Linked DNA regions of Homo sapiens: region 1 is linked to region 2. The links come from fine-mapping of genetic effects on gene expression. A gene starts in region 2. The other region holds a variant in brackets. All regions are shown on one strand. Distances are between the middles of the regions. Region 1 overlaps WDR38 (WD repeat domain 38). Region 2 holds the start of SCAI (suppressor of cancer cell invasion).

Region 1 (4,380 bases), 290 kb before region 2:
TCCTGTCACCTCGCTGAGCCATTTCCACTGGCACGATGCAAGCAAAGTACCTAGCACACAGTAAGGACTCAATAGATATAACTATTGTAATTATTATTCAGGAGACAAGAAAAAATATCAGGCAATTACAGGCAGTCTGGTTAATGCTGCAAGGAGGGAAAATCAGGGGCTGGAGCTCAAAGGAGGCAGTGAACCTAGGCAGCGGTTGTTAGGGCAAGTTTCTGGGAGGTCCCTACTTTGACTTGGGGATTGATTTTTCAGATGAGCACTGAGGTTGGGTGCTCCAAGGCTGACAGCCCAGCCCAGGCCAAGGCATGGAAATCCAGGCATTTCTGGGAAGCTGGAGTTTGGGTGAGGGGAGGCTGGCGACGAGGCTGGAGAAATTAGCAAGGATTGGACTGCGTGGGCAGAAGTGGCGGGCAGTGCTCTGTCCCCTGACTGTGGCCACCCGCCCAGGCCCCGTGAAGTTCTGCCGCTTCTCCCCTGATGGCCACCTCTTCGCCAGCGCCTCCTGTGACTGCACTGTCCGCCTGTGGGATGTGGCAAGAGCGAAGTGTCTGCGGGTCCTGAAGGGTGAGTGAGCTGGGAGCCAAGCAGCCAGGCCAGCGTTCCCTTTCAGATGGTGCTGTGTCCTGTGTCACGTCACCTTTCCACCTTCCCCGACCCCGGGCTGGTGCCTGCAGGTCACCAACGGAGTGTGGAGACGGTCAGCTTCAGCCCTGACTCGAGACAGCTGGCATCAGGTGGCTGGGACAAGCGGGTGATGCTCTGGGATGTGCAGGTACGTTGAGGGGCTGGGGCCACCAGTCTGGGATTCAAGGACCAGTTCCAGAGAGGATGTCACCAGTCTTGCCCTCCCAGCTCAAACCCTCCACTGGTTCCCATGGCCCATGCCCACAGCAGGCAACCAAGGCTGCCCCCACCTGGCCACAGCCGCCTCTCCAGGCTTCCTTGCACACAGCAGCCCTCAGGCTTTTTGCACGAGGTCCCCCTTTCCTGGACTGTCAAGGCCAGGTAGCCGGCTGCCCTCTGCTGCCTTCTGCAGCTCAGGGCTCTCTCTAGTCCGGCCAGATGCTGCGCCTCTTAGTTGGGCACCGTGACTCCATCCAGAGCAGCGACTTCTCACCCACGGTGAACTGCCTGGTGAGCCTACCCTCTGCCCTGGGCCCCACCTCAGTGGCCCCATACCCACTTGGAGCTGAGTGGTGGGAAGGGGATGGACTCTGGGTCCCGCCTAGATGCAGAGTGGGTGGAGAGCTGGCTGGGCCAGACTCACAGAAGCTGCCTGCAGGCCACCGGCTCCTGGGACTCCACCGTACACATCTGGGACCTGCGGATGGTGACCCCAGCAGTCTCCCACCAGGCGCTAGAGGGACACAGTGCCAACATCAGCTGCCTGTGCTATTCAGCATCCGGCCTCCTGGTAAGTGGGGTGTCCTGGGTTCCAGGCTGGTCCCTTGCTGGCAGCCAGGCCCTTAAGGGTCCCAGGCCACTTAGGGGCCCAGTGAGCTCACAGGCCCCAAACCCTGGGGATCAGAGCTGTCTGCTGTCCAGGCATCCGGCTCCTGGGACAAGACCATCCACATCTGGAAGCCCACAACCAGCAGCCTGCTTATCCAACTGAAGGGCCATGTCACCTGGGTGAAGAGCATAGCCTTCTCTCCCGACGAGCTGTGGCTGGCCAGCGCCGGCTATTCCCGCATGGTAACCACCCCGGGCCCATCCTGCTCCTACCTACCCATCCTCACCCCACCAGGAGCCCTCAGCACTCACTCCAGAAATGCCCACATCCCCACTTGCCCTAGCTAGGAGGGGGCAAGGGCAGGACCTGGGTGCCAGCCTCTCTTCCTAATGGCCAGCACCAAGGTTAGGGCTGGCCCATTGGTAGTTGCATTGACATTTCCATGACCCAAATGGCATCAGGCAAAAGGGAACTCCTGCTCTGAAATTTCAAATACAGCCTCCAAACAAAACCTACACCAAGAGGTTCAGATGTTTTTTGGGCCGGGGGCGGTGGCTCACACCTGTAATCCCAGCACTTTGGGAGGTGGAGGTAGGTGAATCACCTGAGGTCAGGAGTTCAGGCGAAGACTCATCTCATATTTTGTCTGGGACTTTCCTGGAGGTGGCTTCAGATGCCACAGTGGCCTGGTGAGGCTTCCTGACATGCCCCCCTCCTTTTCCAGGTCAAAGTCTGGGACTGCAACACAGGAAAGTGCCTTGAGACCCTGAAGGTAAGGCACGGCGCTGTGGCACTGAGGAAGCTGTGGACAGCTTCTCCCAAGGCAGGACTTGCCTCGAGCCCCACCTTCTACTCTTAGCAGGGAGTCCTGGATGTGGCCCACACCTGTGCCTTCACCCCAGATGGGAAAATCTTAGTGTCTGGAGCTGCCGATCAGACTAGACGTCAAATATCCCGCACGTCCAAATCACCCAGGGACCCTCAAACCTAACACCAACCACCTTAGATGGTGCCGACCTCACCCGCTCCCCTCAGTGGCGCACAGGCATGCCGCTTCTCCCCACAGACGCAAAGTGACTGTGCTGGCATCCAGCAGATCCCCATGGCCAGGACTCTCCAGGCCCCACCAGAGCAGACAACTGTGGTGGGCAGGACGCTTGCTGGAACCCATCAGACACCTGGTCCCCAAAACCAGACCCACCCACCTCCACCCAATCAGTGG[A/G]AGTGCCAGGAAACAAAGCAGTCTCAGCCAGCTGTGCTTTATTGACAATGCGCCCCTCAGGCCTTGACCGCGTACTTCCGCAGCGGGTACAGCCGCTCCTTCCGCTGCTGCTTCTTGGTCTTCAGGTTCTCCTCGTGCTTGTTGAGCCGGCGGCGCATGGCACGTGTCTTCTTAGGCCGCAGGTCCAGGGGCTTGTACTTCTTGCCCTGGGAGACAGACGGCAGGGTGAATCCAAGGACCCAGGGCTGAGGAGCTACTGCAGCAGCTAAGGGGGCTGGGGAGGGCCATCCAGAGCCACTCAGGAGGAGGCTGCCACCATGGGACTGCCAGCAGGCCACACATGTCACTAACTCAATTAATCCCCCCAAATCTAAGGCTGGTGGGACCATCCTCATTTCATGTAAGTCTGCTGACCTACTGGGCTGAGTGTCCAAGTCTTGGCAAAGCTGTGGAAGAGCCGGGGCTTGCATCTCAGTCAAGTGACTCCCAACTCAGTGCTCCTTCCACTGCCCGATTCCCAGTCACGAGGACAGTCACATGACAACCTAGTACAGGGCACGCAGCACCCACCAAGCCCCGGGGGTAGTTACCATTACCTCGGCTCTGGTTAGCAAGAGCATGCTGGGGGCTGAGGCAGTACTCTGTCCATCTGTATGCAGGGCCCACCAGCTGCTGCCTGTATGAACGTCCAGCCTCAGAGGCCTGGCTGGCCAAGGCCACTTGCCCCACCTGCTTCCGGCTTTGGGGCCCCTGCCCACAGCTGTCACAGAGCCATCATCTGTCTTTCCATCCTTGGCTCCCACTCCTGCCCCACTTGTTCTCCAGCAGGGGGTTCTAGACCATGGCAGCTCTCACTGGTCTCTCCTGTGTTCTGCAAAGGTCCCCTGGGCCCCCTTCAGGACTGGGCCCTGTGCTGGGAGCTGGCTTGGCAAAGGATCTGACCCAGTCCCTGCTCAGGGGTCCCAGCCTAGTGGGGGAAGACTGAACAGGTAACAAGTGGCCCATGGTATGGGGGATTCTGAGGTCACAGGGCCCCAGGCCCCTGCAGGTGGGCAGAGGACTGCAGAAAGATCCTGGACAATGAGGGCCAGCCCTGGAGGGTACTTGGAAGCAGGAAAGTCTTTGTCCTCCCACATCCCTCACTCCTGCTGGCATCGGCTGGGCATTCGTCCTTTTCACATTGGCTAACCCCCTAGAGTTCTGCTGTCCAACAGAGCAGCCACTAGCCACACACGTAGCTGCTGACATTAAAGGTTTACTTTTGCCACACACGTGCTAGTGTCCCCTGAACAGCTAACATAGCCACACTATGGCCCTTCTCATTTTTTTGAGATGAGGCCTCACTATGTTGCCCAGGCTACACTTTAACTCCTGGGCTCAAGCCATCCTCCTGCCTCGGCCTCCCAGTAGCTGGGGTTATAGGCCTGTGGCACTTCATCAGCCATGGCTGCTTTTCCCTTGTGTCAAATCTTCAAGTTATTCAAACACAATTTGGGTAGTGATGTGGAACCATTTTGCAGATGAAATTAAAGACCCTCATCAGGTAACTTTAGGGGAGATTATCCTGGGTAATCCCAGAAGGCCCGATCCAATCAGCTGTAAGTCTTAAGCACAGGGCTGAGGCTCCCTCCAAGTACCCACTGGGAACAGCAGCTTCAACCTGAGCCCTGAGTCCCAGCCAGCCCCCACAATCACC
Region 2 (4,380 bases):
TATGTAGTACCTCTCACATGGAATGCAGTCAAAAATGTTTATGTGATAAATATATCTTCATCTCCATTACTCAAGGACTAATTCACTTTGTTTGTGGACTACTTAAACTCTTTGCTTCTATTTTCCTAAGGTTCAACCATTCGAGTTAACTACACAGTGTCCAACGACAAAAGATAAAGCAATAAGAAAACCTACTTTCAATTGCATATTTATTAGCAGCATTATGGTATAACAGTTAAGAGCTTAAGCTCTGGAGTCAGACTGTCTGGATTCAAATCCTGGTTTTATCTTTTACTAGATGCATGATTTTGGGTAAATATTTGGCCTCTCTGTGTCGCAGTTCCCTCTTCTGTAAAATAGTGACACTACATATTCTCTTAGGGTTCTTTGAGGATTACAGGAGAAGATACACATAGAGCATTCGTACACAGTACTTGGCACATAGTAGATGCTCAATAAAATTAGTTTATTTTTTGAGGCAGGGTCTTGCTGTGTTCCCCACACTGGAGTGCAGTGGCATGATCACGGCTCACTGCATCACTGCAGCCTTGACTTCCTGGGCTCAAGCAATCCTCCCACCTCAGCCTCTTGAGAAGCTGGGACTACAGGTCCACAACACCCGCTCAGCTAGTTGGTTTTTGTTTTTTTAATTTTTTGTTTTTGTGGGTACATAGTAGGTGTATATATTTATGGGACCGGCTAGTTTTTCAATTTTTTGTAGAGACGGAGTCTTGCTCTGTTGCCCAGACTGGTCTTGAACTCCCAGGCTCAAATGATCCTCCTGCCTCAGCCTCCCAAAGAGCTGGGATTGAAGGCATGAGCCACCCCAGCCAAGATGAGCTTTTTAAACAGAGATGCTGGAGAAAATGAAATTATGGCTAAGGTTAAAAAAAAAAATAGCTGAGATCCTTACACAACATCAAAAAGTAAAAAAGTAGGATTTCTCAAGATTTCCCACATTATCTTAGATACCAAGAAAAAAAAAATCGACTGTAGAGGTAGTAATTTGAAGTCCTCAAAAGAAAAATCATGCATGTGGTTATATTCTTTTAAAAGGGGGATAAATAAGAAACTTCATCTACTGACAGTATACAATTATGCAGTACGGCACAGGTGCAGCCAAGCAAAAAGAAAAACATGAAGCAAAATAGGAAGGCACTGCCTTACCTGCTTCTCCGTTTTCGAGGCGGTTTCTCCACTGTGCCAGTCAGTCTGCAGACCAAACAAATAAGACGGTAACTAAAAGTAACATACAAGAAAACATCTCCCGGCGCTACCGTGCCAGTCAAGAACTAAATAGACCACCCTCTGGGACCACAGGCTCGCCAAGCCCAGATCTGACCTTACAAACGCCTCATGCCCTGTTTCCCCTATTTACCAAGACCTAGCATTCCTGGGACTCACCGTTCCCCCAATTCCCCCTGAGCTCAAACCTTCCTGGTCCCTCACCCCATCCTCGACCCCTGCTCGTCACAGCCCAGCTCCCCAAAATCACCCACCTCCACCTACTCATTGTCTGCCTCGTCACCCCCGCAAGCCCCCCTAGCCTCCCCTTTCCTGTGCCCACCCGTTCCCGACCGTGCACTGCCCCCTCCACGCCCCGCCTCTCCGGGCCCGGCGACCCCCGCATTCCACGGCCCCTCCGGGGGCGCGCCCGCCTTGCCCCTCCCGGCCCCGCGCCGCCAGCCTCACCCCTCGGCGCCCCTTCCCTCACACGCCCCTCTCACCTGGCCTCGAGGAGGCGATCGCGCCCAGCCCGCGCCGCCGCCTGCAGGCGCCCCCAAGGTCCCCCCAGCCTGCACCCCCCGCCCCTCCGGTCTCTGCGCCCCGAATGCTCCACCGCCCCGAGCCGCTGCCCCTGGGCCCGCTCCCTGGCCCCCACCCCATCCCCAACCCCGGCCTCCACCCAGCCCCCGCACCTGGGGGCCAGGCGACTCCGCGGCTGCTGGGGCTGCCGGGCTCCTCTGACCATCCGGCTCCTGCTCCGCCGCGGGAGCTGCTCCGGCGGCCGCAGGGCTCGCTCGGGAAGCTGAGGCGGCGGAGGCTGGAGTAGGCGGAGAGGCGGGAGGAGGGCCTCGCGCCTCTGCCAGGCTTGCCGCGGGGCCCGCCTCCTCCGCGCCTCTCCTCGGCTCCCATTGGCTAGAGCAGTAGTGTGGACGGAAATCTGTCAGTCGATTGGACGCTCGGCCCGTCACATCCCGCGCTGCCCACCCAGAGGTTTGGTTGAGACTGCAGGTGGCGGCGGAGGTGCCTTAGAGATTGCTAGCAGGGCCGGAGGAGACCCTAGCGCCACCATGCGTCTAAAAGTAGGAACTGCACCCCCGGCTCCAGACACCTGCCCCAGGTTCTCCTGGCTCTGCGTCCTGCATACCACACACCTGCTGGCGCCCCTCCACCTCTGCACCACGCCAGGACCGAAAACAAGCCCTGAAATCTCCCAATTTCTTCTAGCAGGTGAGACAGTGAGGCAACTCTCACAAACGTGTTTCCTTTTAAGCCACCTCGAATGCGATCCTTGTCCCTACATCTTGCTGAAATTGTCTCACAGCTCACAGCTACCCCTCAAAAAGGACCCAGCCAGAAAACTCTAAGAATCCACCAAAATAAAGCATGGTTTGGATGCTCAATCCTCTGCAGAAAAGCTCACTAGCTTGGGTGCAGGCTTTTAAGAAAGTAAGATTTTTTTTTAATTACCATGAAAGAAAAATCAGCACTACAAACAGAACCAATGCCATACTAAAAGCAACGTGTTCCATTTTGAAAGGCCTGGACAAATTTGATCCCTGAATGGAAGCTGACCATCCTGATTGTGTGACCATTGCAAGTTCTACACCAATTAATCAATTTTAAAATAAATTGTACTGTATTTTTTGACAAACAGGCATGCAAAACTGCCTTTCATAAGCATAGTTACCCTTCTTCTGCTTTAACAAAGCCATCCTTGAAAATAAGACTCAGCTCATTAACGTATTATAAAATTCTTGAAGGTGGGAAGGCCTCTCTAAATCTCTACTCCTGTGTGAACTTGTTTGGTATATTCTCAGCATCTGTTCAGAGTTGGGAGGAGGCATAAAACTTTCTCTTAAGTCACTTCCATTTTATTAGAACATCTTTTATGCCTCAATAATATGACAGCGTCGAGTAGTACATGTCAACATTGGGGTGGGGAAAATCTCTCATTGATCTCCATAAGCGGCAAAAATTAGGATACTAGTTTTTCACAAAACCAAATGTATTTGGTGTAAAGAGTTGTCTTTTCTTCTGAGATGGTCCTACCTACATCTTTAATGGTAAAATGACTTTCCATTTATGAAGTAATACTGACGGTAAATTGTAGTAGGAATTGAAAAATTGCTTTGAAAAAATGTCAAATCTCTGTTGGTCCCCCAAATTAGTATTTCACGTAATCCTAAAGTCACAGAACCACAAATCACCTCAATCTCAACTAACAGTTTCCACCCATATTATCAAGCCAGAGAGAGGAAAGAACTCGAGAATAATTTGTGTCAGACGAAGGGGGATCATCAACTCACTAGGGAAGTAATCTTGAAATACATTTATTATATTCCTTATTAAAAATCCATTGCCTGCTTTTTAGCATCTTCCATAATTGACCAATCCTCACTGATATATGGCAGATATTGTCAATAAAACAGGACCTATTCATTTCTTACGCCTTCCCAAAAAGGATCCTCGAGTCTTCACATTGTGTCCAAGTGATCTCTGCTTATTTTAACTCTGTAAGACATACAAATCCCATCATTCCAGTCCACACTTAATTCACACTTCCTCTTTATCTTCCCCAATTACTCCATCCTACATCAAACATTTCCTTGTCCAGATGTGTTGTACTTACAAAATCTACACTATGTTAGCAATTATACATTGCCTTGGATTATTCTTCCCAACTACAATGAATTTGAACAAATGGCCTATGAGTATGAGCCCTTAATAAAAGGCAGCTTTGGACCAGATACTGGGTGCTTTGTGTGTGCTATTTTTAATAGTGAGATTAACCCTGCCTGATATTCTCTTATTTTAGACACAGAAACTTAAGATTCAGAAAATTCAATCTGTTCAGGGTCACACAACTACAATAACCAATATTGCTTAAAATAGAGCGCTAAAGAAATACTCTGGTGTGCCCTCTAGGGATTCAAGTTCCAGCTCTCTTGTGCAACGTTAGACAAGTCACCTATCCTCTCTAAGCCTATTTCCTCATCTAGGGGGAGAAAAGTTCTAGAGAAGGATGAACAAGATTTATTAATTTTTTTGAAGTTTGGGCTGGGCACAGTAGCTTATGCTTGTAATCCCAGTGCTTTGGAAGGCCGAGATAGGAGGATCTCTTCAGCCGGGAGTTCAAGACTAGCCCGGGCAACA

Evidence for each region. PIP is the estimated chance that this variant, and not a neighbour inherited with it, causes the effect. A credible set is the group of variants that fine-mapping cannot tell apart.
Region 1: its variant is the best candidate, but not a certain one, in a credible set for the expression of SCAI in esophagus mucosa (GTEx, PIP 0.58).

Annotation. Positions count from the first base shown.
Region 1 is chr9:124,855,178-124,859,557 of GRCh38, forward strand. WDR38 (WD repeat domain 38) reads left to right here. Exons shown (of 9, transcript NM_001045476.3): 3 at 457-573; 4 at 684-781; 5 at 1,063-1,143; 6 at 1,292-1,423; 7 at 1,555-1,704; 8 at 2,187-2,234; 9 at 2,325-2,701. The coding sequence ends at 2,453. RPL35 (ribosomal protein L35) reads right to left here. Exons shown (of 4, transcript NM_007209.4): 4 at 2,706-2,890. The coding sequence ends at 2,741. Among named protein-coding and RNA genes, the nearest start is that of WDR38, 3.9 kb to the left of the region's middle. RefSeq lists silencers at 588-756, 3,368-3,650 and an enhancer at 4,291-4,380. The variant A/G (reference allele first, on the strand shown) is at 2,685.
Region 2 is chr9:125,141,466-125,145,845 of GRCh38, forward strand. SCAI (suppressor of cancer cell invasion) reads right to left here and starts at 2,063. Exons shown (of 18, transcript NM_001144877.3): 1 at 1,920-2,063; 2 at 1,168-1,212. The coding sequence starts at 1,972. RefSeq lists a silencer at 1,682-2,181.